7 separate regions of the Homo sapiens genome follow, and all the other regions are linked to region 1. Evidence: fine-mapped expression QTL. A gene starts in region 1. Each other region holds a variant in brackets. All regions are shown on one strand. Distances are from middle to middle.

Region 1 (4,064 bases):
ATCACGAGGTCAGGAGTTCAAGACCAGCCTGGCCAAGATGGTGAAACCTCATCTCTACTAAAAATACAAAAATGAGCCAGGCATGGTGGCAGGCACCTGTAATCCCAGCTACTCGGAAGGCTGAGGCAAAGAATTGCTTGAACCAGGGAGGCGGAGGTTGCAGTGAGCTGAGATTGTGCCACTGCACTCCAACCTGGGCTATACAGTGAGACTCCATCTCAAAAAAAAAAAAAAAGAAGGTATTTTTACTGAGTGGAACCATACTATATATTCTGCTTTTCCACTTAACATCATATGGGTAGTGTATTTCTCTGGCTGCAGCATCTGAATGCTATTTTGTTTTTATTTTTATTTTTTGGTTTGTTTGTTTTTTTTGAGGCAGGTTCTGACTCTCTTGCCCAGGCTGGAGTGCAGCGGTGTGATCATGGCTCACTGCAACCTCCACCTCCCGGGCTCAAGTGATCCTCCCCAGTCAGCCTCCTGAATAGCTGGGACTACAGGCACATGCCACCATGCCCAGCTAATTTTTGTTTTTTTAGTAAAGAAGGGGTTTCACCATGTTGCCCAGGCTGGTCTTGAATTCCTGGGCTCAAGCAATCTGGCTGTCTTGGCCTCCCAAAGTACTGGGATTACAGGCATGAACCACCGCACCCAGCTCATCTGAATGCTGTTGATTTATTAATATCTTTTCCCAGCACAGACGCATAGCCTGCTCTTTGTCGTCCATTGACATTCGTGACATTCCTTCTCTCCCACCCCTTTGCCCCCTGCAGGGAACCCCCTGCCAGCCTAGGGTTACACCTGCCACCCACTCCTCTGGAGCCTAATCAGCTGGGAGAAGGCTCCTGGGTCCCTGTCTAAGGTCTTTTTTTTCTTTTTTTTTTTTTTTGAGACAGAGTTTCGCTCTGTCGCCTAGGCTGGAGTGCAGTGGTTCAATCTTGGCTCACTGCAAACTCAGTCTCCTGGGTTCAAGTGATTCTACTGCCTCAGCCTCCTGAGTAGCTGGGATTACAGGCGCGCGCCACCACGCCTGGCTAATTTTTGTATTTTAGTAGAGACAGAGTTTCACCATGTTGGTCAAGCTGGTCTTGAACTCCTGACCTTGTGATCCGCTCGCCTCAGCCTCCCAAAGTGCTGGGATTACAGGTGTGAGCCACCGTGCCCGGCCTCTGTCTGAGGTTTCTTCCAAGGAAGGAAGGATTTTTGTTCAGAGGTGGCTGCCCCTGTCTGACATCTGGTCCAGGAGCCCTTACTCTAGAGACCGTTGAGTTGTTTGTTGGGCTTTGGGTATCTGTGAAGAGGCCCTAAAAACTTTCATCGATTCGTTTACTCATTTAACAATTAATCTCTCTAGGGTGTGGTGGCTCAGCCTGTAATCCCAGCACTTTGGGAGGCCAAGGCGGGTGGATCATCTGAGGGTGGGAGTTCAAGACCAGCCTGACCAACATGGAGAAACCCCACCTCTACTAAAAATACAAAATTAGCTGGGCATGGTGGCACATGCCTGTAATCCCAGCTACTCGGGAGGCTGAGGCAGGAGAATTGCTTGAACCCGGGAGGCGGAGGTTGCCGTGACCCCAGATCTCGCCGTTGCACTCCAGCCTGGGCAACAAGAGTGAAACTCTGTCTCAAAAAAAAGGTAGAAAAATTAGCCAGGGATGGTGGCTCAGGCCTGTGATCCCACCTACTTGGGAGGCTGAGATGGGAGGATCGCTTGAGCCCGGGAGGTCGAGGCTGCAGCAAGCGGTGATCACGCCACTGCACTCCAGCCTGGGCAACTGAAAGCAACCTTGTCTCAAAAAAATGAAAAAAAAAAAACAAAAAACAAAAAAACCTCAGAAGCAAGACTTTCCTTGGCTCAGAGGTTTGCCTCCCAGGGACACAAAGGGAGATCAAGTGATTGCCTTTTGGGGAGAGTGGAGACGGGCTTCCTGCATTTCCAGTGCCTGGGTGGGCCACGTAGGGGTGTCCGTGTCTCTGAACGCATCCGTGCCCACCCTCACCCCTTGGGTTTTGGGAAGGACTAATGAAATCATGAAAACTGACTTCCTTGGGGCTTGACCTGGGGCTGCTCTAAGTGCGCTACAGGTAACGCCATTAACCCGTGCAAGACCCAATGAACAGACGCTATCATAAGCCCCACTTTTCAGGCGAGCAAACAGGGGCTCGTGGCTATCGATGCCATGGAGCCTTGGCCCAGAACCTGGGGTCTAGAAATCGTGGCCTCTCTCTCCTCTCACCGCCCTCTTTCTGGTCGGAGTGAACCCCCCAGAGAAGGGAGGGAGACGGCAGGGCCTGACGGAAGCCCCGGGAGCTGCACAGAGAGGCGGAGGGAGCTGCCCTAATAAGGAGAGGCCCGGACTTGGGCATATCTGCAGAAAAACCCTTCCCCACTAGGCAGGCGCGGGGGAGGGCGTGGAGGGGCGGGGTGGTGCCGCCCCCGGGGCGGGCCCAGTGCGTGGCAGCGGGACCTGCGGCCCCGTCGCGAAGTTTCCAGCCCTGCGAGCGCCGCCGGGTCGGCCGATCGTCCCCCATACCTCGGCCATGCGGCCCCTGCTGCTACTGGCCCTGCTGGGCTGGCTGCTGCTGGCCGAAGCGAAGGGCGACGCCAAGCCGGAGGGTGAGGGAGCGAAGGCCGGGGGCGGGAGCGCGGATCCGGGCGGGAGGGCTGGTGTCGGGCTGCCTCCCTGGGAACGACCTGAATGGGAGGCCTGGGCTGGAGAGGGAGTCTGGGTTCCGGCTCCTTGTCCACTTAATCGCTGGTGACTTGAACAAATCACTTCCCCTCTTGGGGCTGCGGTTCCTGCTTCGGGAAGGAAAGGGTGACAGCTGAGTCCCATTCAGCACAGAAAGGCTCAAATAATAATAGTTTTCATAATAATAACCGACAATGGCTATTCTGCCCAGTGCTCACTATGGGCCAGGCATCAGTTAGGCATGATTGCTACCCTGGTAAGTGTTTCCTTCTATTATCCCCGTTTTCCAGCTGGGCAAACTGAGGCTCCAGAGTTCATTCACTTGCCCAAGATCATACAACTTGTGGGCCTTGGAACCAGGATTTACCCCACCCACCCAGGTGTCTGGTTCCAGAGCCAGGAGGCCTCATGACCATGGGAATGAGGGGTCTTGAGGGGGACAGGGGAGGAATGGGGGTAGAAGGTGTGGCTCACTTTGTGGATAAGTTTGTGCTTTCATCCATGTCCCCTGTGGTCTGCTTAGCCCCTGCCAGGGTGGTCTTCCTCTCTGCAGTTTATTTTTTTTATTTTACTTAATGTATTATTTATTTAGTTATTTATTTATTTTTGAGACAGAGTCTTGCTCTGTCGCCCAGGCTGGAACGCAGTATGCGATCTCGGCTTACTGCAACCTCTGCCTCCCAGGTAAAAGCAATTCTTTTTTTTTTTTTTGAGATGGAGTCTCGCTCTGTCGCCCAGGCTGGAATGCAGTGGCACAATCTCAGCTCACTGCAACCTCCACCTCCCAGGTTCAAGTGTTTCTCCTGCCTCGGCCTCCCAAGTAGCTGGGATTACAGGCACGTGCCACCATGCCTAGCTAATTTTTGTATTTTTAGTTGAGATGGGGTTTCACCATGCTGGCCAGGCTGGTCTTGAACTTCTGACCTCTTGATCCGCTGGCCTCAGCCTCCCAAAATGTTTGGATTACAGGCGTGAGCCATCGCGCCCGGCCGGTTCAAGCGACTCCTGTACCTCAGCCTCCCAGGTAGGTGGGATCACAGACATGTGCCACCATGCCCAGCTAATTTTTGTATTTTTGGTGGAGATGGGGTTTCACCATGTTGGCCAGGCTGGTCTTGAACTCTTGACCTCAGGTGATCAGCCCACCTTGGTCTCCCAAAGTGTTGGGATTACAGGCGTGAGCCACCACACCTGGCCCTCTCTGCAGTTTATACTTGAGGAAACTGAGGCCCAGACAGGTGAAGTGACTGTCCAGGGTGGTCCAGACAGAGGTGGTTGGTCCGAGGTCAGCTGGGCTCCAGTCTAGCGCTCTTTCTACTTCCTCAAGGCAGATTGGATTGCAGTGTGTGCCCCACTGTCCTGAGTGGG
Region 2 (4,064 bases), 22 kb after region 1:
CTGCAGCCTGGGTGACAAGAGCCAGACTCCATCTCAAAAAAAAAAGCAATAATGATAATACTTTCTCACAGAGATGTTGTCAGGATTAAATTGATTAATATATGTAGAATAGTTTATTTATTTATTTGAGACAGGGTCTCACTGTCACCCAGGCTGATGCGCAGTGGCAGAAACATAGCTCACTGCAGCCTCAGCCTCCCGGACTCAAGCGATCCTCCCACCTCAGCCTCCTGAGTAGCTGGGACTATAGGCCTGCGTCACCATGTCTGGCTAATTTTAAGATTTTTTTATAGAGATGAAGTTTTGCTATGTTGCCCAAGCTGGTCTCAAACTCCTGGGCTCAAGTGATCCTTCTGCCTCAGCCTCCCAAAGTGCTGGAATGACAGGAGTGAGCCACCGCACCCGACTCGTGTAGAATATTTGGAGTAGCGGCCAGGTGCGGTGGCTCACACCTGTCATCCCAGCACTTTGGGAGGCGGGGGGCGGGGGCGGATCACCTGAGGTCAGGAGTTCGAGACCAGCCTGCTCAATGTGGTGAAATCCCATCTCTAGCAAAAAAAAAAAAAAAAAAAAAAAAAATTAGCTGGGTATGGTGGCACATGCCCGTAGTCCCAGCTACTCAGGAGTCTGAGGCAGGAGAATCGCTTGAACCCAGGAGGCGGAGGTTGCAGTGAGTCGAGGTCGTGCCATTGCACTCCAGCCTGGGTGACAAGAGCGAAACTCTTTCTCAAAAAAAAGAATATTTGGAGTAGCTATGTGCGTGTAGTGGAGTGCTTGGCAGGTGCTGGTTACTCTTAACGGCCGTCATTGTTGTAGGTGAGCCGGCTGCATTCTTAGATTCCTTCCAGTTCAGAGTCCCTGGTTTTCTGTGAGTAGAGCCACTAGACTGTAGACCCCAGGAGCTTGGCTGCTGGCCTTCTCTGGGCACCTAGCTGCCCTGATGTGACGTGGCAGAGTCGGTGTGGGGAATGAGGGCTGAACTTGGGGACAGATTCCCCACACTGGGTGAGATGTAGCCCCAGCCTCCCCCAGGGCCTGTCCCTGCTGCAGTCTGGTACCTTCTTTCCTGCAGGAGCAGATCAATATCACCCTGGACCACCGCTGCCGTATCTTCCAGAACCTGGATGGAGCCTTGGGTGAGCAGCCCCCACGGGGAGGGGTGGATCCTCAGAGGGGTGATAGGAAGAATTCCAGGCAGGGCCCGAGCCCAGGGAGGAGAAATGGGCTGCTTCTTTCTGGCCATTGTGCTGAGAGGTCACTGGCCTCATCCCCAGGTCCCCAGGGGCCACTTGGATATCCTGGCGCAGAGCCATGTCTCTCTTGGGGGCGGGGGACAAGTGAGCATTCAGCCTGGGAGGAGTTGGGGGATGCGCACAGCAGGTGCTGGACCCCCTGCCCTGCATACCAGGTCCTTACAGGTGGGCCCTCTTTCCCCACTTTCCCGGCCCTCCCACCTTCCAGGTGAAGGAGTCCTGGGCTAGGGGCAGGAACTCAGCTGGTGGGACAGGCAGCTTGGGAAGCAAAAGGCTACTTGACCCTTGATGCCGCAAACATCCCTGGGCCTGGCCTCATGTCTGTGGCTGGTGATGACATTGCTTTGCCGCAGGTCTTCCTGTCTTCCTGAGTGACCTCAGGCAAGTCACACCTCCTCCCCACAGGGGACTCAGTTTTC[T/C]TATCTTTACAAAAGGGAAGTGAACCGGATCCACTGATTGCTGATTTTGTGGATAAATGGGCCCTTTTGAGAATCTGATGAAAGCTACGGCTCTGCTCCCAGAGAAACGCAGAAAATGCCCTTTGCCTGTGGTTTCTGGGGGTTAAGAAGCACTGAGTTCAGATCCACGCAGGTCAGGAGCTATCTGTTTTCCTTTTTTTTTCTTCTTTTTTAAGATGGAGTCTTGCTCCATCGCCCAGGCTGGAATGCAGTGGCGAATTCTCGACTCACTGCAACCTCCGCCTCCCAGGTTCAAGTGATTCTCCTGCCTCAGCCTCCCAAGTAGCTGGGATTACAGGCGCACACCACCATGCCCGGCTAATTTTTGTATTTTTTTAGTAGAGATGGGGTTTCACCATGTTGGCCAGGCTGGTCTCGAACTCCTGACCTCAGGTGATCCACCTGCCTTGGCCTCCCAAAGTGCTGAGATTACAGACGTGAGCCATCGTGCCCAGCCCTATTTTAATTTTTAAAATAGAGACAGGGTCTCACTATGTTGCGCAGGCTTGTCTCAAACTCCTGGGCTCAAGTGATCCTCCCACCTTGGCCTCCCAAAGTGCTGGGATTACAGGTGTGCGCCAGCGTGCCCAGCTGAAATACCCATTTTCCTATGTGCAGACTAATAGGGTCAAACATGGGTATTGGGGGCCAGGCACTGTAATCCCAGCACTTTGGGAGGCCAAGGCGGGTGGATCACCAGAGGTCATGAGTTCAAGACCAGCCTGACCAACATGGTGAAACCCCGTCTCTACTAAAAATACAAAAATTAGCTGGGTGTGGTGGCATGTGCCTGTAATCCCAGCTACTCAGGAGGCTGAGGCAGGAAAATCACTTGAACCTGGGAGGCGGAGGTTGCAGTGAGCCGAGATCATGCCACTACACTCCACACTGGGCAATAGAATGAGACTCCATTTCTAAAAAACAAAAAACAAAAACACACACAAAAAACATGAGTATTGGAACCCTGCTGCAGGGGCTCCCTCCACTGGGACAAGATCTGTCCTGATCATGCCCAGGCCTCCCCTGCATGTGGCTCTGGCATTTTCTCAGTGCTGCTCTGCCTACTCAGAGAAGGCGCGTCCCAGACCCTTTCTCTTGGGGCTTCTCTGAGGTGCCTGGAGCTGGGATGTTCCAGGTCTTCGTTCTTCTCCCAGCCCCTGCTTCTGACTGTAAGTAACCACAACAAGTACAGGGGTTGCCGTGGATTCTGTGCTCATGATGGGCCAGGCTTGGTGCCCCACGCTTGTTCAACACAAATCCTCCCCCTCACCCCATGAAGAAGGGATTATTCCTATTTTATAGATGAGGAAACTGAGGCTTAGAGAGAAGTGACTTGCCCGAGGACATAATCTACTCACTGCACAGCTGGGATTTGAGCCCAGCTGGTTGGACCCTGAGCCTGACCTCTGGGTCTGATGCTGGGTGGGACTGTGCTTTCTGACCCCCAGATGAGGTCGTGCTCAAGTTTGAAATGGGCCATGTGAGAGCGAGGAACCTGGCCTATGACACCCTCCCGGTCCTGATCCATGGCAACGGGCCAACCAAGGTAGGGGGTCCCCAGCCCCTGGGGAGTGTGGGAGGGGGCCAGAGCCCTAATTTCATTCTCACTGTGACCCCACAGTGTCTCCCTGGGGCCAGGGCCACCTTCCTGGGGCCTGCTATGAACTCACTGCCTCTGTCCTCACATCTGAGCTCAGCGTGATGCCTTCTTTTCCTGCTGTGGTGGTCAGTGGTACTCTGTCTGTTCTTGCTGGTCACAGGACACGTAGGAGGCTGCCATCCCCTTCCAGGCCTAGGCTGGGCTACCAGAGCCATCTGCACTGTCACCCCAGGGCAGAGTCACTTATTCACTCAGTAAACCTTTATTTCATGTTTGCACCAGACAGTAAGACATAGTCATAAGCAGGACGGATGTCCTGCATTCATGGTGACAGAAGGGACTGGGTGCAGATGCGGCCAGGGACAGAATGGACCTCACTGGTCCCTGGGGAACTGGCTCATAGCTCATAGCATATTTGAGTGTGGTCCTTCACCGCTGGAATGAGGGAGAGGAAGGAGGATGTGATGTGTTTAAAATGCAAATTTGCTGATTTCACCCAGGATCTGTTCAGATGGAATCTCTGAGCGGGGTGGGACCCAGGAATCTGCATTTTACAAGCTCTCGGGAGAAGCACTAGAGTGCCAAGCCCTCCCCTGCCCTCTCTCAGAGCGGCTTGGTGATCTCCTGGGGATGGAGCATTATCTCCAAGACCCTCTTAGGGAGTGGGAGGGGGCTGGATGGTGCTGACCCACTGGGGGCCCAGGGAGATGTGAGTCAGGGCTATGGCAGGTGGGGCTGGCTGGCTTCTCTGTG
Region 3 (4,064 bases), 33 kb after region 1:
TATTTTATTTACATTTTTGGAATAGCCCAAAGAAAACGGAACTTTCCACCTAAAGGTACTCCAAGTGATGTGCCCGAGAGACACCTCACCCTGTCTCTGCGCCCCACCCCATATATTTTTGTGACTTTTTTTTTTTTTTTAAACATGCAGCAAGATGAAGTTTTCCCCTGTGACCAACATTTCAGGACCAGAACACGCTCCTTTTCTTTTACGCATTTTTTCTTTCATTCTGTGTTCAGTCCTCTGGGAAGACTTCCCTGATCACATTCTTAGTGTCAGGCCTGGGCTGGGCCCTGGGGACATAGCGGTGACTGCACTTGGTCTCTGATATTGGGAACTTCAGTTCGGCGGGTGGAGGAGGCTGCACTGTTGCCCGTCTGGGAGCGTGCAGGGGAGGGGTGAGGGCAGGGGAGGGGTGGGGGAGCGCCTCTTCCACCGGGCCTGTCCTCCCCAGGATGTGTTCATGTTCCTGACCAACCGGCACACCCTTGGCCATCTGCTCTCCCTAGACAGCTACCGCACCACCCACCTGCACAACGACCTCTGGGAGGTGTTCAGCAACCCCGAGGTGAGGCCAGGGTGGGCACATAGGGGCTGGGAGCAAAGGGGCCCAGTGATCCTGCAGTCGGAGGGACTTCCCTCTCAGAGTCTTACAACAGCCAGGACCCCTGTAGGCCACCTGCCACCCTCCCTTCACCCCAGGAGGCTATAGGGCAGGATTTGGGTAGGGAGAGAAGGGTGTCCAGAGAGGCAACACCATCTATTGGAGGAGGGACCAGGACTCAAGAGGCCTGGGTTTGTGGCCTAGATCTGCCATCATCTGGGACTTAGTTGAGCCTTCCAGCTTTGGGGACCTTAGTTATCTTAGCTCCAAAATGGGTATACTGTCCCAGCCTGTCTTACCCATGAGGGTGTTGTGATGATCAGAAGGGGAGACAGTTGTAACTGTTTCTAGACGTTGGGAGCTCACAGCTGATGGGTGTAAGCACATGCCTGCACACAGACATATACACACAAGCACACACATGTACATACATGTGCAAACACCACCTCCTATGGGCACACCTGTGCACCCAGACAACACACACGCACCCAGTGGGTGCAGGTGAACACCTGCCTCTGTCAAGCACGTACACCTTCACTCCCACTTTGAGGGGTCTGCTCTGAGCATCCCTGGCAGTTGAGCCAATGGTGAGGACCCTAGCCTGCTTCCCACTTCCCACAGGACTGGAAGGAGAAGTACATCCACCAGAACTACACCAAAGCCCTGGCAGGGAAGCTGGTGGAGACGGTAAGGGCCATGGACACCCTCTTGGACCAGCCTTGCCTGCTGCAGGGGGCAGGGCACAGAAGGGAAACTGCTTGCCCTGGGGAGTGGGGGACAGCAGGATGGGAGTTGGGGGTGGAGGGATGGGAGTTGGGGGGCGGCAGGATGGGAGTTGGGGGTGGCGGGATGGGAATGGGGGGGCGGCGGGATGGGAGTGGGGGGTGGTGGGATGGGGGTGGGGGGAGGCAGGATGGCCCCTCTACCTGTTGGCACTTTCCTGCTGGAGGCTGTGGGAGTCTGCAGGGCCTCTCTACCTGGCCCAGGCAGGAAGGAGGAAAACATCCTGGATGTGATGGCCACTGTGGCCCACCATGCCTGGACCACTTCGGGGAGTGGCTGCTTCTCTCCACTCACTAATGTCTGCTTCCCCCGAGCCTGGGGCCTCTGCCCCCTCCCTCCCTCCATGCCCATGTTTCTGTCTGACCTTGGCGCTGGTAGCTCTGTGACCTCGGCTGGGAAAGTCTGTCTCTGGGCTCTGCCTCCTCCTCCCCACTCAGTCTCTCCAGGATTGACAAGGCCCTGCTCCCCGGGGACACTGGGAGGGCTCCCTGGCTTGGGTGTGTGGCCCTGAAGAGGAAGGAGGATTCTGTGGTGCCACTGTGGACCCCCTTGACTGAGTCCCTGCCCTCCCCAGCCCTGCCCGGATGTCTATTGGTTCCCCATCTTCACGGAGGTGGCCTGTGATGAGCTGGTGGAGGAGATGGAGCACTTTGGCCAGTGGTCTCTGGGCAACAACAAGGTGGGACCCTGATGCCTGGGCTGGGGCCGCAGGGAGGCTGCCTCTCCATCAGTGCCGCTCACTGTCTGGGGTCTTCTGGCAAGCTGGCCTGGCCACCCTTTCTGGGACTCTTGACATAGGGGTGCTGGCATGGGTATCTGCAGGCAGGTAGGAGTAGAG[G/A]GATTGAGAAACCTGAGATGGAGTTTGGTCCCTGAGCTGCTGTTGCCACCGTGTGGCTTTGAGTTGCCTTGACCGTAAGCTACTAGGTTTTCAGTTCCTGGTTTGCTATTGGAATGGCTTAGCTTGGTTCCCTAGACTTCCCCCAGGTGGAGCTGGGGAGGAAAGGGCCAAGGTGGGATGAGGGGCATTAGGAAGGGCTGTCGGGTCCAAGTTCATCAGACAGCAGGAGCAGGTGGCCTGCTGAGGGTGCTAGGCCCTGTGTTCTCTCCGTGAGAATCCCAACACCTGTTCCTGTCCTGGAAAGTTCAGGTACCATTTTTTTTTTTCTTTTCATGTGTGTGTGTGTGTATATATATATATATATAAAAAGAAATATATATAGATTTTATTTATATATATATATATATATTTTTTTTAAATAATAGAGACGGGGTCTGGCTGTGTTGCCCAGGCTGGTTGTGAACCAGGCACAATTTCATTTTATTTATTTTAATTAATTAATTAATTAATTAATTTAGAGACCGAGTCTCACTCTGTCGCCCAGGCTGGAGTACAGTGGCGCAATCTTGGCTCATTGCAACCTCTGCCTCCCAGGTTCAAGAGATTCTCATGCCTCAGCTTGCCGAGTAGCTGGGATTATAGACGTGTGCCACCACGCCCAGCTAATCTTTGTATTCTTTATTTATTTAATTGTGTGTGTGTAAATTTTTTTTTTTTTTTTAAGGCAGTGTCTCGTTCTGTCACCTAGGCTGGAGTGCAGTGGCATGATCTCAGCTCACTGCAACCTTCCTTTCCCAAGTTCAAGCAGTTTTCTTGCCTCAGCCTCTCCAGTAGCTGGGACTACAGGCGTGTGCCACCATCCCTGGCTAATTTTTGTATTTTTAGTAGACACTGGGTTTCACCATGTTGGCCAGGCTGGTCTCAAACTCCTGGCCTCAGGTAAGCTACCCACCTCGGCCTCCCAAATTGCTGGGATTACAGGCGTGAGCCACCGTGTCTGGCCTAAGGCACCTTTTTATTTTATTTATTTTTTTTATTTTAATGATCCCAGAACATTTATTTCCATAGGATTTTGATAAAAGAGCACAATCTTGAATAAAAATACACCACTGTACTTAAAGGCAACATTACCTACTAAGCAAACTCTGTCCTTAGCCCTTTCACAGAAGAGAAACTGCAGAAAGGAATTTTTCGTCTCCTGACAGTTTTACAACATTCATATCTCCTATGTACTTCAAGCCCCAACCCACCTCTGATTTTCTTTTTTCTTTTTTTTTTTTTTGAATGGAGTCTCGCTGTGTCGCCCAGGCTGGAGTGCAGTGGCGCCATCTCAGCTCACTGCAACCTCCGCCTCCCAGGTTCAAGCAGTTCTCTTGCCTCAGCCTCCCGAGTAGCTGGGATTACAGGCGCCTGCCACCATGCCCGACTAATTTTTGTATATTTAGTAGAGATGGGTTTCACCATTTTGGTCAGGCTGGTCTCGAACTCCTGACCTCATGTTGTGATCCACCTGCCTCAGCCTCCCAAAGTGGTGGGATTACAGGCATGAGCCACCGCACCGGGCACCCCACCTCTCATTTTCTACGTCCTTTTTTTTTTTTTTTTTGGTGAAGTGGAGCCTCGCTCTGTCGCCCAGGCTGGGGTGCAGTGGTGCAGTGGTGCAGTGGTGCGATCTCGGCTCACTGAAACCTCTGCCTCCTGAGTTCAAGTGATTCTCTTGCCTCAGCTTCACAAGTAGCTGGGATTACAGGTGCTGGCCACCATGCCTAATTTTTTTTTTTTTTTTTTTTTTGAGACGGAGTTTTGCTCGTCACCCAGGTGGAGTGCAATGGCACAATC
Region 4 (4,064 bases), 27 kb after region 1:
CTACTAAAAATACAAAATTAAGCTGGGTGTGGTGGCAGATGCCTGTAATCCCAGCTACTCAGGAGGCTGAGGCAGGAGAATCGCTTGAACCTGGGAGGCAGAGGTTGCAGTGAGCCGAGATTGCGCCATTGCACTCCAGCCTGGACAACAAGAGCAAAACTCCGTCTCAAAAAAAATAAAAATAAATAAATAAATAAATAAAATAAAATAGGGATAATAATTGTGCAATCACACAGAATTGCTGCAAGGGCTAAGCAAGCTGACATGCGAAGTTCGTAAAAGGTGCCTGGTGCACAGGACGCATCTAGTTGCTTCTAACTGTTGTCATCTTCACTTCCATCCCTGTCACTGTTAATCCTTCCTACCTTCCTAATTGTACCTGGTGGCAGTCAAATTGGTTTTCTTTTCTTTTTTTTTTTTTTTGAGACAGAGTCTCGCTGTGTCACCCAGGCTGGAGTGCAGTGGCACGATCTCGGCTCACTGCAACCTCTGCCTCTTGGGTTCAAGCGATTCTCCTGCCTCAGCCTCCCAAGTAACTGAGACTACAGGCATGCGCCATCACAACTGGCTAATTTTTTGTATTTTTTTTTTTTTTTTTGAGACGGAGTCTTGCTCTGTTGCCCAGGCTGGAGTGCAATGGCGTGATCTCAGCTCAGTGCAACCTCTGCCTCCCAGGTTCAAGCCATTCTCCTGCCTCAGCCTCCCGAGTAGCTGGGATTACAGGCGCCTGCCACCGTGCCTGGCTAATTTTTTGTATTTTAGTAGAGATAGGGTTTCACTATGTTGGCCAGGATGGTCTCGATCTCCTGACCTCGTGATCTGCCTGCCTCCGCCTGCCAAAGTGCTGCGATTACAGCCATGAGCCACCGCACCCAGCTGGATGGTTGTTTTTCCTTTTTTTTTTTTTTTTGAGATGGAGTCTTGCTGTGTCTCCCAGGCTAGAGTGCAATGGTGCGATCTTGGCTCACTGCAACCTCCGCCTCCCAAGTTCAAGCAGTTCTCTGCCTCTGCAACCTCCGCCTCCCGGGTTCAAGCAGTTCTCTGCCTCAGCCTCCTCCCGAGTACCTGGAATTACAAGTGCCTGCCACCATGCCCGGCTAATTTTTGTATTTTTAGTAGAGACGTGGTTTCACCATCTTGGCCAGGCTAGTCTTGAACTCCTGACCTGGTGATCTACCCGCCTCGGCCTCCCAAAGTGCTGCGAATACAGGCGTGAGCCACTGTGCCTGGCCTGGACTGTTGTTTTTCAAAGCGAAGTTGAGGATCACCTGGCACATTTTGTAACAAAGTGGATCTCTGGGCCACACCCAGGAATCAACAATGTCTCTGGATGTGGGATCCTGAGCGTGGTGGCGGAGCTCTATCCTGATGACAGAGGCTCTTAGGAGGCCTGACCTGGTCAGAGGAGAATGGGCAAAGGATGGCCAGGGAAGGGTGTTCCTGGCACAGGGCTGGCATGGGCAAAGGTCTGGAGACAGGAAAGCAGATGGCCGGGGTGCCAGAGATGAAGGGGCACAGCCTGGCAGTGACAGGAGGTGCTACAGTCCCTGGGTGGAAGCTGTGTCCTCCTCCTCACCCCCGCATCCCCTTCCCCATCCCCAACCCCAGGAGCAGCACCACAAGGCTCAGGTGGAAGAGTTCCTGGCACAGCATGGCAGCGAGTACCAGTCTGTGAAGCTGGTGGGCCCTGAGGTGCGGATGGCGAATGCAGATGCCAGGAACATGGGCGCGTGAGTTGTGGGCCACAGTACTCTCCACTGACAGTGGGGGCAGGGGAGCTGTGGCTGTGGTAAGGAGCAGCAGGCTGAGTGACAGGAGTTCAGAAGGCTGTGTGTGCTCTAGCAAGTTCCTGCCCCTTTCTGGGCCTTGGAGTTTCCATCTGTCAAAAGGGGAAATAGCCTCTGTCCTGCCAACCCCCGGGGCTCCTGGGCAGGGCTGAGCCATGTTATTTGGGTTCAGGAAGCAAATCAGAGA[AAG/A]AGGAAGGACTGGGGGCAAAAGTAGACAAAGGCTGACTATTAGGGAGCCAACCTTGAATGTTTTACTTTATTATATATAAAAAAAAAAGGCCGAGAGCAGTGGCTCATGCCTGTAATCCCTGCACTTTGAGAGGCCAAAGTTGAAGGATTGCTTGAGGCCAGGAGTTCAAGAGCAGCCTGGGCAACATAGCGAGACCCTATCTCTTCAAAAATTAAAAAAAAATAGCCAAGTGTGGTGGCTTGAACCTGGGGTCCCAGCTACTGAAGAAGCTGAGGCAGGAGGACCTCTTGAGCCCGGGAAGTCGAGGTTGCATGAGCTATGATTGCACCACTGTGTTCCAGCCTGGGAAACAGAGCGAGACCTTGTCTCATAAAGCAAAACAAAAACAAAGAAAGAAGTAATTTGTGTTGCTTGTAGAAGAGTCAGACAGTCCAGATCAAAGGTTGGCAAACTTCCTGCTAAGGATTAGATCATAAATCTTTGCAAATTGGCTCTGCCGGCTCTGTGACAACCCTCAGCTCTGCCCTAGTAGCACAGAGGCTGCATTCCAGCAAAATTTCATTTATGGACACTGAAATTTGACTTTCATGTCATTTATTTTTTTTTCTTTTTGAGACTTGGTGTCACTCTTGTCATCCAGGCTGGAGTGCAGTGGCAGGATCATAGCTTACTGTAGCCTCAAACCCCTGGGTTCAAGTGATCCTCCTGCCTCAGCCCCCCAAGAAGCTGGGACTACAGGCATGTGCCATCACATCCAGTTAATTTTTAAATATTTATTTATTTATTTATTTAGAGACTGAGTCTCACTCCGTCACTCAGGCTGGAGCGCAGTGGCGCGATCTCGGCTCACTGCAACCTCCCCGTCCCAGGTTCAAGCCATTCTCTTGCCTCAGCCTCTCAAGTAGATGGGATTACAGGTGCTTGCCACCACACCTGGCTAATTTTTGTATTTTTAGTAGAGACGAGGTTTCACCATGTTTTCCAGGCCTGTCTCAAGCTCCCGAACTCAAGTGATCCGCCCGCCTTGGCCTCCCTAAGTGCTGGGATTACAGGTGTGAGCCACTGCGCCTGGTTAATTTATTTATTTTTATTTTTTGTAGAGACAGGATCTTGCTATGTTGCCCAGGCTGGTCTCAAACTCCTGGCTTGAAGTTATCCTCCCGTCTCAGCCTCCCAGAGTGCTGGGATTACAGGCATGAGCCACTGCACCTGGTGATGACCTTCACATAATTTTTACATCTTCTTTTGATTTTTGTTTTCTTTTTTTTTTTTTTTTTTTTGAGATGGAGTCTCGCTCTGTCACCCAGGCTGGAGTGCAATGGTGCAATATTGGCTCACTGCAAGCTCTGCCTCCCACGTTCACGCCATTCTCCTGTCTTAGCCTCCCGAGTAGCTGTGACTACAGGTGCCCACCACCATGCCCGGCTAATTTTTTGTATTTTTAGTAGAGACGGGGTTTCACCGTGTTAGCCAGGATGGTCTCGATCTCCTGACCTCGTGATCCATCCACCTCAGCCTCCCAAAGTGCTGGGATTACAGGCGTGAGCCACCACGCCCTGCCGATTTGTTTTTTTCTTGAAACAACTTAAAAACATAAAATCAGCCAAGTGCAGTGGCTGTAATCCCAGCACTTTGGGAGGCCAAGGATTGCTTGAGCTGGGGAAGTTGAGGCTGCAGTGAGCTATGATTGTGCATTCCAGCTTGGCTGACACAGTGAGACCCCCATCTCTAAAAAAGGAAAAAAGGCCGGGTGCAGTGGCTCGCATCTGTAATCCCAGCACTTTGGGAGGCCGAGGCGGGCAGATCACCTGAAGTCAGGAGTTCGAGACCAGCCTGGCCAACATGGTAAAACCCTGTCTCTACTAAAAATACAAAAATTAGCCTGGCATGGTGGTGCACGCCTCTAATCCCAGCTACTTGGGAGGCAGAGGCAGGAGAATCGCTTGAACCCGGGAGGTGGAGGTTGCAGTGAGCTGAGATTGTGCCATTGCATTCCAGCCTGGGCAACAGAGTGAGACTCGTTCTCAAAAAAATAAAATAAAATAAAAATAAAAAAAAGAAAAACATAAAGCTGTTCTTAGCCCATG
Region 5 (4,064 bases), 46 kb before region 1:
TAATGTCCTGGCCTGGGCAGGCCTCTCTAGGGAAGGGACATTTCCATTGTCTCACATTACATTGAGTAAGTGGGACTCAGCTGGGCGAGGAGGAGAGGGTGTGAACTTGGTGTGTTGGAAAACAGGAGAGATGGTCACGGGTCTAGGGCTTGGAGTGAGAGCTGGGCAGGGCTGGAATTTGTGGGGCCTTCTGGACGGTGATAAATTCAGACCCCATCCCAGGGCCATGAGCAGTCGCTAAGGGAATTTAAACAGGAGTGTGGGGACAGGATCAAATTTGCCACCCTCCCTCTCCAGGGAAAACACCTTGGGCTAAGAGGAAAGGCAAATGATGAAGCCTTGGACTCCAGGCCGGGGCCCTGAGAGGAGGGAGAGGGGTCGCCTCCATCTCCGAGCAGCGGGACTAAGAGCCCTTTGGCGCCTCACCCCAGGAAGTCGGCTCTGTAAGGACTTCCCCAGCTTCCTCTGAGGCCAGAGGAGGAGACAAAGAAAGAAAGTCTTGGGCTGGGCACAGTGGCTCACACCTGTAATCCCAGTACTTTGGGAGGCCAAGGCAGGCAGATCACTTGGGGTCAGGAGTTCGAGACCAGTCTGGCCAACATGGCGAAACCCCATCTCTACTAAAAAATCCAAAAAATTAGTGGGGTGTGGTGGCGCATGCCTATAATACCAACTACTCAGGAGGCTGAGGCAGAGAATCGCTTGAACCTGGGAGATGGGGGTTACAGTGAGCTGAGATCGTGCCACTGCACTCCAGCCTGGGAGACACAGCAAGACTCTGCCTAAAAAAAAAGAAAAAAAGAAAGTCTTGAGCTTCTCTGTCCCTGGGGGACAGCAGCCTAGGCCCATCTGGGCTGGGGATACCAGGCCCTTTCCTGGTTCATATTTCCCCCCATCCCGCCCTCAGCCTCCGGGAACACCAGCCTCCAAGCTGGCTGCTGCTTCTGCATCCCACCCCATGACGCACATCCAGAATGGAGCCAAAAGCATAAGAAGCCAAAAGGACAGTCAAAAAAGGAAGGCAGCCTGGAAGGGCAGCAGCACCGGGAACATGAGGCTCTGTCCGCTCGCCCTTGCGCTGGCTCAGTGCAGACGGGAAGCGGTTGGAGCCAGTTCCAGCATTCTGCAGGTGGGGCTGGCGGGGGGAGAGGTGCCCATGCCCACCGGCCATTGGGCGGTCCCATGCGCCCTGCAGGCTGACCTCATTGTCCAGAATTGTGAGCGTGCTTCCTGGGGTCACATTCCGTGCTGAAGAGCCCCTCTTCAAGGCCTCGGTTGGCGCCAATGTCTTTTTAGGAACCAAGCCTCTAATTTTAGTGTCCCAGCCTTGACACCTTCTCAAAATAGCTCCCTGTTTTCTCTTGTGTCCCTGGCCCTTCCTTGGAGAAGGTGAACCCCCTGCATCCCCGTGATCTGAGTTGGTGAGCACAGGTCCAAGGCCTTGTATGGGTTTGGGTGTAGGGATCCACGCCCCTGCCATGTGTTTTGTGTGGCAGGACCCAGAGAACTCACCTCTGGGAGGGCAGCTCACAGCACCCACCATGGCAGGGGTCCTGCGAGAGCCCACTCCCAACTCCTCCCTGGGGGTCTGCCATGCTCAGGCGTGGCACAAACGAAAGTGACTCAAATCCAGGTCCCCAACCCCTGGAAATCAAGGCTTCATAGCCGCAGCTCCACCTGTAGGAATCGTGGGTGAGCTGACACCTG[C/T]GCCCCGGGAGCTCCTCTCTTCCTTTGGCAGGTTCCATGCTGTTCAGGTACCAATCCTAACAATGGCCTTTCCTGAACATTTCAATGGTGCCAAGTGCATCTCTTGCATAATTTTGTTTAATCCTCTCAGCCATCCTATGCAGTAGGTGCTATAATTGTCCCCAAGGTCATGGAGCTGCCAAGCGATGGAACCGGAATTTGGTGGGTTTTTTGTTTTTGTTTGTTTGTTTTTTGAGATGGGGTCTTGCTCTGTCACCCAGGATGCAGTACAGTGGCACGATCTCTGCTCACTGCAACCTCCGCCTCCCGGGTTCAAGAGATTGATTCTCCTGCCTCAGCCTCCCAAGTAGCTGGGATTACAGGCATGCACCAACACACCTGGCTAATTTTTATATTTTCAGTAGAGATGGAGTTTCACCGCGTTGGCCAGGTTGGTCTCAAACTCCTGACCTCAGGTGATCCATCCGCCTCGGCCTACCAAAGTACTGGGATTACAGGTGTGAGCCACCGTGCCCAGCCTAGAACTGGAAGTCGAACACAGGAAATCGGGCTCCCAGCCCTCGGCCTCATGCTACTCATGGTGCTGCCACATAAACATTCTCCTTGCACCAGCCCTTTCTCCACTGCCTCTGTCACAGTCCCTTCCAGAGTGCTCTGCTCAGATTCTTCTAGGCATCCTAAGCGAGTAGAGCAGAGAGGTTGTGCCGCTTGCCTGAAGTCACACAGCAAACTAGGGGCAGATGAAGACACACAACTCCAGAGGGCTGAGATCCAGGAAGCATTCCTGGAAGGAGGCTAAAGCTTAGCCAAGAGGTGAGCAAAGACTGTGGTCCCAGGCAACAGCCAGGCAGTGTGTCGGGACCTGGCAGGGCTCATCTAGCAGTCTTTTCCCCAACAGATTCGTGTTCTCAGCGGCAGGAAAAGCCCTCTAAAGGTGCCACCAGCTGGCCGAGTGGCAGGTATCCAGGAAGCTTGATTCGACAGCTCCCAGGGACACTGGCCACTAGGACCCATATTTTTCTGGGAAAGAGACACACTGGAAAGGAGAAAAGCCAGGGTGGGTCCTTCCTGGGCCTCCTCCTGCTGCAGTCAGAGCCCAAACCCCACACCCAGGGGCTCCCTGGAGGGACTGTGAGTGGCCAGAGCTCCCTTCAGGGCCCGAGGTCTGGCTCCTCCCTCAGGTTCATGCCCTGCAACCTGAGGGCCTGTCCCATTGATCACGATGGGGTGGGGAGGGGGAAGACAGAGACCGGCTGGTGCAGGTGATGGTGGGGAGACCAGGGCACTGGGCCCCATGGGGCTGGCTCACTCCACTCAGCCAGGGAAGAACACATTAGGGGCTTGGGAAACTCCTTCAAATCCCTAAATTGTCTAGGCTCATCCAAGCAGTTTTCGACTATCAGGACAGGAAAATGCAGTTTTTGTCTAAGTGAGTCACAGCCACTCTTCTGAAAGTGCCAGGTGGGTGGGTACACATGCAGGGCCAGAGGGCGCACCAAGAAGAAGAGAGGGGTCAAGACTCAGCCAGAAGCAGGTGCCCAGCCTTGGAATGACCGGAGACAGTCATCATAACACTGGGCTTCCCACTTAAATTATGCCGAGGGCCGGGCACAGCGGTTCACACCTGTAATCCCAGCACTTTGGGAGGCTGAAGTGGGCAGATCACTTGAGGTCAGGAGTCCAAGACCAGCCTGGCCAACATGGTGAAACCCTATCTCTACTAAAAAAAAAAAAAACGAAAATTAGCCGGGTATGGTGGCACACGACTGTAATCCCAGCTACACGGAAGGCTGAGGCATGAGAATCGCTTGAACCCAGGGGACGGAGGTTGCAATGAGCCGAGATCATGTCATTGCACTCCAGCCTGGGTGACAGAGCTAGACTCTGTCTCAAAGAAAAATAAATAAATAAAGAAAGAAAGAAAGAAAGAAAGAAAGCTGGGGTTGCCAACCCAAACACCTACAGGGGCCGGGTGGTTGGTGTAATGAAATAATGAATGAAGCCAGCCAGGTGACAAATTGTGGGGAAAAGAAAGAGAGATCATATTGTTAGTGTGTCTATGCAGAGACAGGAAGACATAAGAAACTCCATTTTGATCTGTACTAAGAAAAATTGTTCTGCTTTGAGATGCTGTTAATCTGTAACTCTTGTCCCAACCCTATGCTCACAAAAACATGTGCTGTATGGACTCAAGGTTTAAGGGATTTAGGGCTGTGCAGGATGTGTTTTGTTAGAAATGTTTTTGTAGGCAGTATGCTTAGTAAAAGTCATCGCCATTCTCCATTCTCGATTAACCAGAGATACAATGCACTGCGGAAGGCCGCAGGGACCCCTGCCCAAGAAAGCCCAGGTATTGT
Region 6 (4,064 bases), 52 kb after region 1:
GAACTTAAAAGCACCTGCTTCTGATGGCAGGGAACTTGCTTCCTGCAGCAAGTCACTTCTGGAGTGGGGTATCGCTGATCCTTCCCCAGCTGACCTGTTTATTTGATCTCCGTGATAGCGGGTAAGGGAGTGGTGTGTGTGGTGTGAGTTGGCGGAGTTGCCTCTGCCCTCCCTGAAGGCTGGGTGTTCATGGAGAGAGTCTTGTGATCTTGCTGGTAGAGTTTGTTGTTATTGTTTTATAACATGTAAAGCTGCCTTTAGCTCTTACTGTAGTGAAGCATGTTGCTTGCGTCATCAACTTTAGTCTTCTCACAGTTTAGATGGTATTGTGGTATTAGGATATTGGTTTTCATCCACGGATCCAGGCTCATAACTCCTATCCACAGCCCTTGTTATGGTTTTTTGATATAATGTTAGATGTGTTAGGCCTCAGGGGCAGGCCTCTGACCTTCTGCTCTCCTTCCACCCTAATCTTTCCCCACCTGATTGTGGGCCTTAAAACCCTCCCCTGAGAGGGGTGGACCCTGTATCCTGGGGGAAGGAATGCTGATGTCATGAAGCTTCCATAAAAATCCAAGAGGACAGAGTTCAGGGAGCTTGTGGATAGCTGAACACACGGAGGTTCCTAGAGAGAGGCCTGCTCAGGGAGGGCACAGAAACTACACGCCTCTTCCCCCATACCTCGCCCTAAGCGTCTCCTTATCTGTATCCTTTGCGATATCCCTCATAATAACCTGGTAAACGTAAGTAAGTGTTTCCCTGGGCTAGGTAGGCTGCTCCATCAAATTAATTGAACTCAAAGAGGGGGTCATGGGAACCCCAGCCTGAAGCCAGTCGGTGAGAAATTCTGGAGGCCCAGACTTGCAACTGGTATGTTTGAGGGGTGGTGGTGGAGAGGCGGGGCAGTCCTGGGGACTGAGCCCTCAACCTGTGGGATCTGACACTCTCTCCAGGTAGACAGCATGGGAACTGAATGAGAGGATACCCAGCTGCTGTCCGCTGGTTGGTGTGTGGGGAAGAAACCCCCTCACATTTGGTCACAGAAGTCTCTTGTGTTGATGATTATGGTGTGAGAGTAGAGAAAAAAGATAATTTGAGACAGTTTCTCTCTCCAGTAGGTGTCTTGTTTGTTGTACACATGAAGAAACCAAGGTTCTGTGATGAAATAACTTGCTTAAGTTTAAGCAGCCCAGAAATAATGTAGTCACAATTTGAACCCAGCTCTGCCTGATTACAAAACCTGTCATAGGTAGTGCTATATCATGCCCCATCCTTGATCCCTTTTTTTTTTTTTTTTTTTTTTTTTTTAAAGAGAGAGACTTCGCTCTGTCACCCAGGCTGGAGTACAGTGGCGAGATCTTGGCTCACTGCAAATTCTACCTCCCAGGTTCAAGTGATTCTCCTGCCTTGGCCTCTGGAGTAGCTGGGACTACAGGCATGCGCCACCACACCCAGCTAATTTTTTGTATTTTTCATAGAGACGGGGTTTCACCATGTTGGCTAGACTGGTCTTGAACTCCTGACCTCAGGTGAGCTGCCTGCCTCGGCCTCCCAAAGTGCTGGGATTACAGGCATGAGCCACCGTGCCTGACCCCTGATCCCTTTTCTATTCCTTTTGGATGGCTTTCCTCTTGTGCCTGCCACATCCCCTCTTTCTCGAACAGTCTGATCTGCCAGGCCATGGCAAGCCTCATTTCAGCGCACTCTCCTTTGCTGCTTTGGAAGAGTGAGAGTAGCATTTTCTTTGCAGTTTCCTTTCTCAGAGCTGTACTGTCTTTAAGCCCTGGACATATGGCTTCCATGCTGAGAAAACATCTCTCATAGCTGTGGCGTCATGCTGAGGAGGAATGTAGAAAC[G/A]GAAGTGGGGTCACTTCCTTCCCTTGTCTCCAGAGGAATCATTAACATTGCACAAGAACTTGTTGGTTTGGGCACACATGTGGGTCCCTATCCCGCTTTGGGTCGGTCTGTCTTCTGCCCACTCTTTGGGATGGTTAGTTACTAAAAGTCCGTTTTGGCATTTGGTCTTCATGTACCTCTTCCGGGTGTTCTTTCTGCTTTTCAGGACCTTGTGCAACATACTTTGGCCCCATTTGGAAGTTTTTCACGTGTGCTTGCTGGGGAGCAACACCTCATTTCCAATCTAGAGAGAGTGAGCTTACTGCTGGGTGGAGAACTGAGCAGTAAGATTAGGGTGGCTGGGGAGGCAGTGACAGACCCAGGCACAGTCAGCTGTGCACACACCCCCTCATCCAGGAGGGCCTTTGCCCTTTGACTTCCTGGGATTGGTGGGCTCTGCTCAAGAAGTAGCTTTCGCCGTGGTGGGAACTCTGAGGGACCTGGCAGGGGTCCACTTTTGGGGTCGGAATTCCCAGTCTTACCCTGGGCACTCCTTCTGGTGTGTACGCCTCTTTTTGATCTTTTTTTTTTTTTTTTTGAGATGGAGTCTTGCTCTATTGCTCAGGCTGGAGTGCAATGGCGCGATCTTAGCTCACTGCAACTTCCAGCTCCCAGGTTCAAGCAATTCTCGTGCCTCAGCCTCCCGAGTAGCTGGGATTACAGGTGCCTGCCACCATGCCTGGCTAATTTTTGTATTTTTAGCAGAGAAGGGGTTTCACCATGTTGGCCAGGCTGGTCTCAAGTGATCCACCCGCCTGGGCCTCCCAAAGTGCAGGGATTATAGGTGTGAGCCACCATGCCCAGCCTCTTTTGACCTTTGACCAAAGACCTCTAGGACTTTGGAGTCAAGTCTCATGACCTCTAAAATGTTGTTATATGAAAAGATAAGCTACAAAGATATGTAGGATTGAGTGAGAGCAAGAGAGACAGTCACACAAAAATAGACTGTGATAATATGGCTGGGTACGGTGGCTCACGCCTGTATTCCCAGCACTTCGGGAGGCCGAAGCAGATGGATCACTTGAGGTCAGGAGTTTGAGACCAGCCTGGCCAACATGGTGAAGCCCTGTCTACGAAAAATAAAAAAATTAGCTGGGTGTGGTGGTACATGCCCGTACTCCAAGCTACTCAGGAGGCTGAGTGAGGCAGGAGGATCGCTTGAACCTGGGAGGTGGAGGTTGTAGTGAGCTGAGATTGCACCACTGCACCCAGCCTGGGTGACAAAAGTGAGACTCTGTCTCAAAAAAAAAAAAAAAATTATAATAAACAAAATGTTGGGCCGGGCGTGGTGGCTCATGCCTGTAATCCCAGCACTTTCGGAGGACAAGGTGGGTGGATCATTTGAGGTCAGGAGTTCAAGACCTACCTGGCCAACATGGTGAAACCCCACCTCTACTGAAAATACAAAAATTAGCCGGGCATGGTGGCGAGTGCCTGTAGTCCCAGTTGCTTGGGAGGCTGAGGCAGGAGAATAGCTTGAACTCGGGAGGTGGTGGTTGCAGTGAGCCGAGATCATGCCACAGCACTCCAGCCTGAGCGATAGAGCAAGACTCTGTCTCAGAAAAAAAAAAAAAAAATGTTGGCTGGGCATGGTGGCTCACGCCTTTAATCCCAGCACTTTAATCCCAACACTTTGGGAATCCAAAGTGAGAGGATCATTGGAGCCCAAGAGTTTGGGAGCAGCCTGGGCAACATAAGAAGACCCTGTCTCTACAAAAAATTTTAAAAAAATTAGTGGGGCGTGGTGGTGCATGCCTGTGGTCTCATGTACTCAGGAGGCTGAGGTGGGAGGATTGCTTGGACCCAAGAGGTTGAGGCTGCAGTGAGCTGTGATTGCGCCACTGCACTCCAGCCCAGGTAACAGCGAGATCTTGTCTCAAAATAAAAAATAAATAAGTAAATAAAATGTTAACATTGCTTATCACAAAATGATGGGGTTATGGGTTTTTTTCCCCTTCAGTTTCCAAATTTTCTGTAGCACACCTGTGCTATACTAAAATAGACCAATAGTTTTTGTGTGTGTGTGTGTGTGTGTGTGTTTTTCTTTGTTGAGACTTGGTCTGGCTCTGTCACCCAGGCTGGAGTACAGTGGTGCGATCTCGGCTCACTGCAACCTCCGCCTCCCAGGTTCAAGCAATTCTCTGCCTCAGCCTCCCAAGTAGCTGGGA
Region 7 (4,064 bases), 68 kb after region 1:
AGGTGGAGCTTGCAGTGAGCTGAGATTGTGCCACTGTACTCCAGCCTGGGCAAGAGAGTGAGATTCCGTCTCACAAAAAATAATTAAACAAATAAAGGGTAATAAGATTGATAATATGGCAATATGGGATGATAAAACATGCAGTTGCAGTCAGTAGGCCAGAGTCCAAATTATTTATTTTTTTCGAGATGGAGTTTTGCTCTTGTCACCCAGGCTGGAGTGCAGTGGCACAATCTCGGCTCACTGCAACCTCCACCTCCAGGGTTCAAGCAATTCTGCCTCAGCCTCCCGAGTAGCTGGGATTACAGGCACCCGCCACCACACCTGGCTAATTTTTGTATTTTTAATAGAGATGGGGTTTCACCATGTTGGCCAGGCTGGTCTTGAACTCCTGACCTTAAGTGATCCGCCCGCCTCGGCCTCCCAAAGTGCTGGGATTACGGGCGTGAGCCACTGTGCCCGCTTGTGACTGACACTAGGCAGTGTGACTTTGTTAGCTTCCTTGACCCTTCTGGTAATCCAATTTCCTGGCCAGTGTGATGGTGTGATAAATAGACTTGTTGAGAGGATGAAATCTGTCAAAAACACCTGACACGTGGTAGGTGTCTACAAGAAGCTATTGTCACATTTTATCGGTAGAACCCCAGGATGTCAGAGCCAGGAGGGATGTTCTAGTGATGCCCACTCCTTTTATAAACAATGCCCCAGGAGGACACAGCTTGTCAGAGTATAGGTCCCAGATTTAGGTTTCTTGACCTCAGGGTTCCTTTCCTGCCAGGGCACCAAAATGAGGCACTATATAGGCTTAACAAGAGGCAGTCTAGGGCACGTTTAAGCATTTCTGCTTGTATATGCATAAAATATCTTTGGCACGCTCACTGCCAAGTAACCCCCACACGTTGGTCTGGGAAACTTGGTGGTGAGAGAGCAGAATAGTGGGGGACATTACACTGTGTATGTGTTTGTGCCTTTGGCTGTTGAGCCATGTGAATATATTGCCTATTCTTTTTTTTCCCTCACTCTGTCGCCCAGGCTGGAGTGCAGTGGTGCTATCTTGGCTCACTGCAACCTCCGCCTCCAGGTTCAAGTGATTCTCCTGCCTCAGCCTCCTGAGTAGCTGGGATTACAGGCGCCTGCCACCATGCCTGGCTAATTTTTTTGTATTTTTAGTAGAGACAGGGTTTCACCATGGTGGCCAGGCTGGTCTTGAACTCCCGACCTCAAGTGATCCACCTGCCTTGGCTTCCCAAAGTGCTGGGATTACAGGCGTCAGCCACCATGCCCAGCCTCTTATGACCTATTCTTTTAATAAAAGAGGCAGGTGGGGGCTGTGGGGCCACCTACACTCACTCTGGACACATTTGTTTGGGCTCCAGGTGCGGCGGCAGCACATGGAGCGTTGTACCAGCTTCCTGGTGGATGAGCTGGGCGTGGTGGATCGATCCCAGGCCGGGGACCGCATCTTCTTTGTGTCTGCTAAGGAGGTGCTCAACGCCAGGATTCAGAAAGCCCAGGGCATGCCTGAAGGAGGTAATGATGAGAACAGATGTCCTCCTTTTCTCTGATGTTTGAGACATTTTGTCTCGTGCTGAGGAGTCTGTCAGTAGAAAATCCTTCTGAGAAGGGGATGCTGAGAAGAGCAGAGAGGCTCTTGCTCTTTAGCCAGTGGCTTGGTTTCTGGGGATTTCATCGTTTTCCTCTGCTGCCAAGTTGTTTCTGGACTAATGCAGTACAATCCTCCTAGGGGGCGCTCTCGCAGAAGGCTTTCAAGTGAGGATGTTTGAGTTTCAGAATTTTGAGAGGAGATTTGAGGTGAGTCCTCTGATTCTGGTATCTGGCGATTCTGTGCCTCCCCAGCTCCCATTGGCTGTGTCCCTGGCAGTGAAAACCAGAGTCTGGCCCTTGGTTGTAGGCCCCTGGTGGCCCCCACCTCCCTCCGTGCCTCTGTGTGTTCCAGGAGTGCATCTCCCAGTCTGCAGTGAAGACCAAGTTTGAGCAGCACACGGTCCGGGCCAAGCAGATTGCAGAGGCGGTTCGACTCATCATGGACTCCCTGCACATGGCGGCTCGGGAGCAGCAGTAAGAGTCCAAGACTGCAGATAGGTGGAGAGAGCTGCCGAGACAAGGGTGCTCCACCCCTGCCTTGGGCAGTTAGGACACGCCTTGATGGCAGGGCTGAGTCTCTGGGCTCCCATCCAGAGCCCTTTCCCTGGCCACCAGACCATGTTAGAACCACATAGACAGCCTGGTGAGGAGGGCGGCTGGGTGCTTCATCACCCCACCTGGTCTGTGCAGCACGATTCCCTGTGTTGGAGGTCTTGGCCCATGCCCTGCTGAGCTCTGCAGCCATTCTCAGAGCCTGAACACATTTTTCAAAACAACATTCCAGCCAGGAGCAGTGACTCACACCTGTGATCTCAACACT[T/G]TGGGAGACCAAGGCAGGAGGACTGCTTGAGGCCAGGAGTCCAGCCCAGATAACATAGTGAGATCCCATCTCTACAAGAATTTTAAAAATCAGCTGGGTGTGGTGGCACACACCTGTAGTTCCAGCTACTTGGGAGGCTGAGGCAGGAGGATCACTGGAGCCCAGGAGTTCAGGGTTCCAGTGAGCTGTGATCGCACCACTGCACTCCAGCCTGGGCAACAGAGTGAGACCCTGTCACTAAAGAATAATATGAAAACACCTTGCTTCTATCACACAGAATTGACTTTCTCAGTTGTTTATGTTAAGTTAAAATTTTAAAAAGTTCAGTTCCCTTTTGATTCTTTTGCACTTGTCCCAGTGTCACTCTGCCCTGAGGCACCATAATCATGAATTTACATTGTTCTATCACCCAAACAGTACTTTTTACATAAATGCTGAGGAATATGTCAGGTTTTTACATGCTTCAGATGTACAGATGTGGCATCACACTGTCTGTCACTGTACCTGGCTTTGCTTTCTCAACATCGTTTTTCCCTCTATCCTTGTTAGTATGTGTAGTTTGTTTATGAATCGGAACTGCTGTAGTATATTCCATTGTGAATATGCCTCATTTTCCTATGGATGGAATTTTAGATTTTTTTTTTGCTATTGGAAACCCTACTGCAGTGGACATTTGTTCATGTGTCCCCTTGTGCACCTTTTTAAGAGTCTTCCTGGGGTGAGTTCCTAGGGGTGTGGCAATTCTGTTTTAGGGTACACGCGTTTCCAGTTTTAGTCAGTTTTCTTGATGCTCTTCAGAACAGCCGTACCCATTCATTGCATGACCAGTACTGTCCATAGGCCTTCCATTTCATCAGCCCTCACCAGAACTTCAGACCTGGTCATTTTTGCCAGGCCTTGGTAGAAAATAGTGCCTTTAAAAATTTCATTTACAACTGGGCATGGTGGCTCACGCCTGTAATCCCAACACTTTGGGAGGCCAAGGCGGATGGATCACCTGAGGTCAGGAGTTCAAGACCAGCCTGACCAACACGGAGAAACCCTGTCTCTGCTAAAAATACAAAATTAGCTGGGTGTGGTGGCGCATGCCTGTAATCCCAGCTACTCGGGAGGCTGAAGCAGGAGAATCGCTTGAACCCAGGAAGTGGAGGTTGCAGTGAGTGGAGATCGTGCCATTGCACTCCAGCCTGGGCAACAAGAGTGAAACTCCATCTCAAAAAAAAAAAAAAAATCATTTCTGTGATTACTAGTGAGGTTGAGCTTTTTTCCCTATATTAATTGGCAGAATTTGTTTAAACCCCCTTAAAGCGCCCTCCCTGTTTTGTGCCCACCACCTGACCCACATCGAAGACTGAAGAGTGCATGGTTGGCTGCAGGGTCCTCTTCTTACCTGGGAAGGGGAAGGCCATGCCCCTGGGTGCGTGTGTGCAGCCCTGCCAGGCAAGATAGCGGGCAGGGCGGCGTGGGATTTCTGGCATCCCCTCTTGCTCCTCTGCTTAGTCAGACAGGAACATGGATTTCTCACCAGTACTCTGCTTTCAGGGTTTACTGCGAGGAAATGCGTGAAGAGCGGCAAGACCGACTGAAATTTATTGACAAACAGCTGGAGCTCTTGGCTCAAGACTATAAGCTGCGAATT

Direction of the effects. Positions count from the first base shown, and alleles are read on the strand shown. Sizes are in standard deviations (SD) of each study's normalised expression. Not every link is listed here.
As copies of G replace A in region 6, the expression in whole blood of the gene that starts at base 2,482 in region 1 goes up (moderate effect, 0.43 SD a copy in GTEx).

The links. PIP is the estimated chance that this variant, and not a neighbour inherited with it, causes the effect.
Region 2: its variant is fine-mapped to the expression of PLOD1 in whole blood (TOPMed, PIP above 0.99).
Region 3: its variant is fine-mapped to the expression of PLOD1 in whole blood (TOPMed, PIP 0.99).
Region 4: its variant is fine-mapped to the expression of PLOD1 in whole blood (TOPMed, PIP above 0.99).
Region 5: its variant is fine-mapped to the expression of PLOD1 in whole blood (INTERVAL, PIP above 0.99).
Region 6: its variant is fine-mapped to the expression of PLOD1 in whole blood (TOPMed, PIP above 0.99). The same link has a PIP of 0.9 or more in T cells, blood mononuclear cells and monocytes.
Region 7: its variant is fine-mapped to the expression of PLOD1 in whole blood (INTERVAL, PIP above 0.99).

What each region holds. Positions count from the first base shown.
Region 1 is chr1:11,932,236-11,936,299 of GRCh38, forward strand. It overlaps PLOD1 (procollagen-lysine,2-oxoglutarate 5-dioxygenase 1), which reads left to right and starts at 2,482. Exons shown (of 19, transcript NM_000302.4): 1 at 2,482-2,620. The coding sequence starts at 2,545. RefSeq lists enhancers at 1,265-2,190, 2,021-2,070, 2,191-3,114 and a silencer at 2,291-2,760.
Region 2 is chr1:11,953,758-11,957,821 of GRCh38, forward strand. PLOD1 (procollagen-lysine,2-oxoglutarate 5-dioxygenase 1) reads left to right here. Exons shown (of 19, transcript NM_000302.4): 6 at 1,073-1,136; 7 at 3,160-3,257. Among named protein-coding and RNA genes, the nearest start is that of PLOD1, 21 kb to the left of the region's middle. The variant T/C (reference allele first, on the strand shown) is at 1,673.
Region 3 is chr1:11,965,026-11,969,089 of GRCh38, forward strand. It overlaps PLOD1 (procollagen-lysine,2-oxoglutarate 5-dioxygenase 1), which reads left to right. Exons shown (of 19, transcript NM_000302.4): 14 at 455-568; 15 at 1,226-1,291; 16 at 1,962-2,066. Among named protein-coding and RNA genes, the nearest start is that of MFN2, 13 kb to the right of the region's middle. RefSeq lists enhancers at 1,392-1,892, 1,893-2,393. The variant G/A (reference allele first, on the strand shown) is at 2,226.
Region 4 is chr1:11,959,038-11,963,101 of GRCh38, forward strand. It overlaps PLOD1 (procollagen-lysine,2-oxoglutarate 5-dioxygenase 1), which reads left to right. Exons shown (of 19, transcript NM_000302.4): 10 at 1,609-1,730. Among named protein-coding and RNA genes, the nearest start is that of MFN2, 19 kb to the right of the region's middle. The variant AAG/A (reference allele first, on the strand shown) is at 1,975.
Region 5 is chr1:11,886,140-11,890,203 of GRCh38, forward strand. No RefSeq gene overlaps it. Among named protein-coding and RNA genes, the nearest start is that of RNU5E-1, 20 kb to the right of the region's middle. RefSeq lists an enhancer at 1-3,294. The variant C/T (reference allele first, on the strand shown) is at 1,708.
Region 6 is chr1:11,984,175-11,988,238 of GRCh38, forward strand. The region is part of intron 2 of MFN2 (mitofusin 2); the gene reads left to right. Among named protein-coding and RNA genes, the nearest start is that of MFN2, 5.8 kb to the left of the region's middle. The variant G/A (reference allele first, on the strand shown) is at 1,858.
Region 7 is chr1:12,000,025-12,004,088 of GRCh38, forward strand. MFN2 (mitofusin 2) reads left to right here. Exons shown (of 19, transcript NM_014874.4): 9 at 1,377-1,530; 10 at 1,745-1,812; 11 at 1,958-2,079; 12 at 3,968-4,064. Among named protein-coding and RNA genes, the nearest start is that of MIIP, 17 kb to the right of the region's middle. RefSeq lists an enhancer at 774-1,703. The variant T/G (reference allele first, on the strand shown) is at 2,426.